Linked DNA regions of Homo sapiens. The protein of the gene in region 2 interacts with the protein of the main gene of each other region in a pairwise test. Each region holds a gene or a part of one and is shown on either strand. Other genes may lie near its edges.

The links.
Region 1: the proteins of C4BPA (region 2) and GTF2I interact in a two-hybrid assay, tested with the Homo sapiens proteins (one large-scale study listed by BioGRID and IntAct).

What each region holds. Positions count from the first base shown.
Region 1 is NC_000007.14:74,733,916-74,737,739, forward strand, and holds part of GTF2I (general transcription factor II-I), read left to right. Parts: intron 1-7; coding exon 8-66; intron 67-1,545; coding exon 1,546-1,617; intron 1,618-2,584; coding exon 2,585-2,768; intron 2,769-3,824. UniProt on the Homo sapiens protein: Interacts with the basal transcription machinery by coordinating the formation of a multiprotein complex at the C-FOS promoter, and linking specific signal responsive activator complexes.
Region 2 is NC_000001.11:207,142,094-207,145,657, reverse strand, and holds the end of C4BPA (C4b-binding protein alpha chain precursor), read right to left. Parts: intron 1,841-3,564; coding exon 1,665-1,840; intron 1,115-1,664; coding exon 941-1,114; 3' UTR 686-940; downstream 1-685. UniProt on the Homo sapiens protein: Controls the classical pathway of complement activation. It binds as a cofactor to C3b/C4b inactivator (C3bINA), which then hydrolyzes the complement fragment C4b.

The DNA.
Region 1 (3,824 bases), on a different chromosome or scaffold from region 2:
CTTTCAGACATGAGCTTCTGAATTCAACACGTGAAGATTTACAGCTTGATAAGCCAGCTTCAGGAGGTAGGTCTTCAATCTCGAGGCAGATCAGAAGATTATGTGCAATAATTATTTCACGCTTAACATTGATTTCTTCTTTATGTTACCTTCCACATGAAATAATATGTCTCTAACTATTAATTATGTGCCATTACAGGAGAATTCATGTTGTCAAAATTCTAATAATTTCTAGAAGAATAAACGCATCTTCTTTTTATTAACCCATTGTAAATACTTATAAATATTGCATTTATGGGTAGACAGAAGTAAAAGAACAATATTTGTTCTACTTTTGATGCAAGATTTATCTGGCATAATGCATTGAACAGTTTATTATTGAAGTCTACACGAGTCAATGGAACAAGCATTCATTGAATGTCCATGATATGCAGGACATAAGAAGGTTTCCTTTTAGAGCATGGAGCCATTTATATCATCTCTTAATTGTTAGATGTATTTTGTTTTGTTTTGTTTTGTTTTTTGAGAGGGAATCTTGCTCTGTTGCCCAGGCTGGAGTGCAGTGGTGCGATCTCCGCTCACTGCAACCTCCCGCCTCCTGGGTTCAAGCAGTTCTCCTGCCTCAGCCTCCCTGTAGCTGGGATTACAGGTGCCTGCCACCATGCCCAGCTAATTTTTGTATTTTTCGTAGAGACAGGGTTTCACTATGTTGGCCAGGCTGATCTCAAACTGCTGACCTCAGGTGATCTGCCCACCTCGGCCTCCCAGAGTGCTAGGATTACAGGCATGAGCCACCGCGCCCAGCCTGTTAGATGTGTTTTAAAATAAATAGAAATATAATTGATTTTCTTGCTTGCTTTTGCTCTGGAGTGGAGTGGAGTGAGGATAAAACAGAATGGAATCACCCTGTTGATATTTACTAAGATAGAAGGACTGCAGCAAGATCATAGCCCTAATCTTCCTGTAGCAAGTGTTACCTGCTAGCTGTTCCTGAATACACTGAGTTTTGCTTTTTCCTAGCTCTAATGAATGTTTCGTTCTTCCTCTTTTTGTACAGTGTCAGCATTGTTTTAGAAATAAATACATTCTAGAATCTTAGGAATAATTTTATTATTGTCTTTTTTTTTTTTTGAGACGGAATCTCATTCTGTTGCCCAGGCTGGAGTGCAATGGCGCAATCTCAGCTCACTGCAACCGCTGCCTCCTGGGTTCAAGCGATTCTCCTGCCTCAGCCTCATGAGTAGCTGGGACTACAGGCGTGCGCCATCACGCCTGGCTAATTTTTGTATTTTTAGTAGAGATGGGGTTTCACCATGTTGGCCAGGCTGGTCTCAAACTCCTGACCTCAAGTGACCCGCCTGCCTCGGCTTCCCAAAGTGTTGGGATTACAGGTGTGAGCCATTGCACCTGGCCACGAATCTTAGAAATAATTTTGGCCATAGGAAAAGGAAAAGTTATACCTCTTATTTTATAGTAATAATGTTTAATAATCAAGTTATTAAACCCATTAAATTGAGAACACTTGTATTACTGTTATTTTGACAGTAAAGGAAGAATGGTATGCCAGAATCACTAAATTAAGAAAGATGGTGGATCAGCTTTTCTGCAAAAAATTTGGTAAGTCTGTTTTTTTTAATTACCCCTTCAACTAAAATGTATTACTGAGTAACATTTTTTTAAATGTTGTTTTATTTTAGGAAAGTAAATACAGTGAATAGGACTCAGCTTTAGTTTTCCCTGTTTTTTTTTTTTGGGTTTTTTTTTTTTTCTTGAGAAGGAGTCTTGCTCTGTTGCCCAGGCTGGAGTGCAGTGGTACGATCTCAGCTCACTGCAACCTCCTCCTCCCGGGTTCAAGCAATTCTCCTGCCTCAGCGTCCCAAGTAGCTGGGATTACAGGTGCCCGCCACCACGCCTGGCTAACTTTTGTATTTTTAGTAGAGATGGGGTTTCGCCATGTTGGCCAGGCTGGTCTCAAACTCCTGAATTCAGGTGATCCACCCGCCTCAGCCTCCTAAAGTGCTGGGATTATAGGCGTGAGCCACCGCGCCCGGCCCCCATTCTATGAATTATCTGTGGAAAGTTATTTCCTTTAAAATGGCATGCTCGTGAGGTTGAAGGGGTAAAGAACATTGATCTGGTTGCCACGCAGATGAAAGTGTAGTCGGAAATGTGTTACCAGTTTGCCATAGCCGATGGAGGAGGGTAATTACGGTCCTGAACAGTTAGTAGCAAAAGGCTGCTTCCAGATAGTATTTAGGTTGTGTCCTCTATTGTCCATGATGATTTTCTTTCTCTCTTTTCTTCCTAAGGATATTGAAAAACAAACTTTAATCTTTTAAAGATCTCAGAGCTATTAAGATTGTCTTAGGACCAGGACACTTAAATCTGCCCAAATCTGGCTGTTGATGATCGGTCATCTCTACTTGTCTTTGCTGTATTAAGTCTATTCAATAGTTAATAAATATGTTTCTAGAAAGAGTTTTTTTCAAGTAAAACAAAATTGACCTGTGCCTTTCTTTGGATTGTACTAAAATCTGATTTCAATACAAATGTAGTCTCCCGAATTGCTTTGATTTTTGTCCAGCGGAAGCCTTGGGGAGCACTGAAGCCAAGGCTGTACCGTACCAAAAATTTGAGGCACACCCGAATGATCTGTACGTGGAAGGACTGCCAGAAAACATTCCTTTCCGAAGTCCCTCATGGTATGGAATCCCAAGGCTGGAAAAAATCATTCAAGTGGGCAATCGAATTAAATTTGTTATTAAAAGGTAAGATGATAATCTGTAGAAATAGTTTCAGTGTCTTCCCTGAGAAGAGGTTAATTTGATGAAGAAGGGCCTTTTGTTTACCTTATGACTTATTTCTATTGACAATGAAGGCATTAATATTTAGATTCACTTAGTGAACAAATATTAGTATAAGCATCAGATGTGCAAAATTGGGTCTAACAAGAACACTGTCCTTGGGGCCTTCATACAAAGAAAAATGCACTGAAGGCCGGGCGCGGCAGCTCACGCCTGTAATCGCAGCACTTTGGGAGGCCAAGGCAGGTGGATCACTTGAGGTCAGGAGTTCAAGACTAGCCTGGCCAACATGATGAAGCCCCATCTCTAGTAAAAATACAAAAATTAGCTGGAAGCGGTGGTGCAAGCCTGTAGTCCCAGCTACTCGGGAGGCTGAGGTTGGAGAATCACTTGAACCCTAGAGGCGGAGGTTGCAGTGAGCCGAGATCGTGCCACTGCACTCCAGCCTGGGCAACAGAGCGAGACTCCATCTCAAAATAATTAAAAAAAAAAAATAGAAAAATGCAATGAAGTGTTATTGAGCGTTTTTAAGGGAGAAGGCAAGGATGGCACACCCAGCTCGGTCACTTGTGCATCCAGAAGAGATGGAAGGTGTTTCAAGTGAAGGAAATCATATGAGTAGGGGGAGGAGGTGGCAAATATGCCTGCGTATCCACAGAACTCACCCACCGTGTGTGGAGTGAGGACTGCCACGTGGGCGTGGTGGGGTTGCATGGATCGACTTGGGTGGGCAAGTGGAGGAAGGCCTGAGATCCTACGAACACAGAGGCAGTCACGAAGTGGTCTCGAGGCAGATGCCTCTGAAAATAATGTGGATCCGCCCTTTAGAAAGGTAATTCTGGCTTGATTTTGAAGGATAACACAATGGTTAGTTTGGGTGCGGGGTTAGGAACAGAAGGCCTCTCTCCACTCATTGACGGGATGTGGAAGGGTAAACCTTCCTTACTGATTGGGGTCATGCCTCTGTGTGTTTGTTGGGACTGAGTTATAAGGGATAGGAAACGTTTAAGATGCTACAGC
Region 2 (3,564 bases):
CCTTCTCTGGGGTTGGAATGAGGAAGTCAGACACAAAAGCAAACTTCCTTCATGGAAGGCAATAGTGGAGATGTGGCATGAGTCAAAGAGACAACGTGCACAGGGGCTCAGGGGAAGGCGTGACTCCCCCAGAGCGGGAGAATGGGGGAGGCTTTGAGGGTGTGTTGACATTTAACCTCACCAGGGAGGACATGAGTGCTGTGCACACATGAAACTGTGGAGTAAAGGCAGTCTGTCCACGATAAGAACCCAAGTATGGCCAGGCATGGTGGCTCACACCGGTAATCCCAGCACTTTGGGAGGCCAAGGTGGGCAGATCACTTGAGGTCAGGAGTTCGAGACCAACCTGGCCAAAGTGGTGAAACCCCGTCTCTACTAAAAATACAAAAATTAGCTGGGCATGATGGCACACACCTGTAATCCCAGCTACTCAGGAGGCTAAGGCAGGAGAATTGTGTGAACCTGGGAGGTGGAGGTTGCAGTGAGCCAAGATTGTGCCACTGCAGTCCAACCTGGGCAACGGAGTGAGAGTCTGTCTCAAAAAAAAAAAAAAAAAAAAGAAAACCCAAGTACCTATTATTTGTGGCCCAAACAGTAAAACAAATGTATTAATGTATTAACTTTATATTATGGGTTTTTTAAGGACGCTTATTTCACAGAGTCCTAAATGACCACAAAGACAAAATAGTTTTTTATACATACATTTTTAATCGAAAAAAAATTTGTGCTTTGTGTGTTGAAAAGCAAAAACATGAGCCACACAGAGGATGATTAATAATTTCACAATCTCAAAGCACTAAACTTTAGCAAATTATCATTTCTAGATATTTATTATGATGAATATCACTGCCAAATTGACAGTAGATTTGCTAAACTGATCTGTATTGAATTGCAAGAGGCAAGCCAGCAAGACACCTTTTCCTCCTTCTTTTGAGAAAAATTATAGTTCTTTATCCAAAGTGGATTGTCTTGCGCTGTCTCTCTGTAGTTCCAGTTGTTCAATTTCCAGAGACAGCTTATATACCTCCAGGGCCATTTTCACATCCTCTGGGTTTGGGAGACACTGCATGAGTCTTTTGCCTGTGAGCACTTGTTCACAGCCTTCGGGGGTCTCCTAAAAGATATAAGTGGTGGGTGTGATTGAGAAGCTTCTCTTCTAATCATAAAGGAGGGTGGATCCTGACAGTGGAAGGACTACAGGATTGAACCAAGACCAACCTCAGACTGGTGGTTGAGGCTGGGAAAACAAGAAATCACTTGGGTCCCACCACAGTCTTCCCCAGGGGAACATGGATCTGTTCTGAGACAGCTGTCCAGAAGGCCCCCATGGTAACAGAGGCTGTTTTTGCTGACCATCCAGAAATGGAACAACAATATATTATATAGCTTAGCAAAAGTTAGGCTAGAAATCAGTACTACTGGGTCTATGAAACCCTGCTCTGTAAGGGCTCAGTTTTTCCTGTTCTCAAGTGAGAACAGGAGAACTTGCCACCCCTAACTTACCAGAATGCTTCAAGACAAAAAGAGTTTCTTTGAGTGGGAGTGGCTCAGAAATGAATCCTGACAAGTCAGATTTCACCATTGTTGAGTGGTACAGAGCTCTGGGGGATGCCACCATTTTTAGGGGTCGACAGCACAGAACTTCCTTGAATTGTGCCACTTACCCACTCACACTTGGGCACCTCTGGGTACCAGGTTCTGTTCCCAGAGCAAGTGATACTTTGGGGACCAACCACACCATAGCCAGAATCACATTGGATGGTGACATTTTCAGGCTCAACATACTGATCCTTATCCACAGACAACCTTCCATTCACTAATTCTGGTTTCCGACACAGAGCTGTAATGGAAACATATTTTTAAGAAATCTGTAAATCTATGAAGAAGGACATGATAACAGTCTCGGATAATAAGAATGAACTGTATTTAGTTCTGCTAATTGTTCTATCTTTCTCTTCATTTGAAAACATTCATATTAGCATTTTATTGAGTATGACTACCTATCAGACTTCTGCTAGGCACTTTATGTTGCTATCATTTAAGTCTCCTGGCAGCCCTATGAAATGAGCACTGTTATTATTCCCATTTTATCTAAGAGACAGCTGAGATACATTAAGACACTTGCTCAAAGTAATAACATTTTCATATAATATGACAACATATTTCTTTTTTTATTATACTTTAAGTTCTGGGATACATGTGCAGAATCTACAGGTTTGTTACATAGGTATGCATGTGCCATGGTGGTTTACTGCACCCATCAACCCATCATCTACATTAGGTATTTCTCCTAATGCTATCCCTCCCCTTGCCCCCCACCCCCTGACAGGCCCCAGTGTGTGATGTTCCCCTCCCTGTGTCCATGTGTTCTCATTTTTCAGCTCCCACCTATGAGTGAGAACATGTGGTGTTTGGTTTTCTGTTCCTGCATTAGTTTGCTGAGAATAATGGTTTCCAGCTTCATCCATGTCCCTGAAAAGGACATGAACTCATTCTTTTTTATGGCTGCACAGTATTCCATGGTGTATATGTGCCACATTTTCTTTATCCAGTCTATCATTGATGGGCATTTGGGTTGGTCTCAAGTCTTTGCTACTGTGAATAGTGCTGCAATAAACATACATGTGCATGTGTCTTTATAGTAGAATGATTTATAATCCTTTGCATATATACCCAGTAATGGGATTGCTGGGTCAAATCGTATTTTAGTTCTAGATCCTTGAGGAATCGCCACACTGTCTTCCACAATGGTTGAACTAATTTACACTCCCACCAACAGTGTAAAAGTGTTCCTATTTCTCCACATCCTCTCCAGCATGTTGTTTCCATGACAGGATATTTCTAAAAGAAGGTATGTGACCCCAGAATCCCAACTAACGAGGTAACTGTCACTCACAGTTTTGATTGCTGCAAGATTCTAAGTATAAAAATTTCCTTCTTGCAGACATTTATGCAGCCAACAGACCTATGAAAAAATACTCATCATCACTGGTCATTAGAGAAATGCAAATCAAAACCACAATGAGATAACATCTCACACCAGTTAGGATGGTGATCATTAAAAAGTCAGGAAACAACAGATGCTGGAGAGGTTGTGGAAAAATAGGAATGCTTTTACACTGTTGGTGGAGTGTAAATTAGTTCAACCATTGTGGAAAACAGTGTGGCAATTTCTCAAGGATCTAGAACTAGAATTACCATTTGACCCAGCAATCCCATTACTGGGCATATACCCAAAGGATTATAAATCATTCTATGATAAAGACACATGCACACGTATGTTTATTGCAGCACTATTCACAATAGCAAAGACTTGGAACCAACCCAAATGTCCATCAATGATAGACTGGATTAAGAAACTGTGGCACATATACACCATGGAATACTATGCAGCCACAAAAAAGAATGAGTTCATGTCCTTTGCAGGGACATGGATGAAGCTGGAAACCATCATTCTCAGCAAGCTATCACAAGATCAGAAAACCAAACACTGCATGTTCTCACTCATAAGTGGGAGTTGAACAATGAGAACACATGGACACAGGGAGGGGAACATCACACACT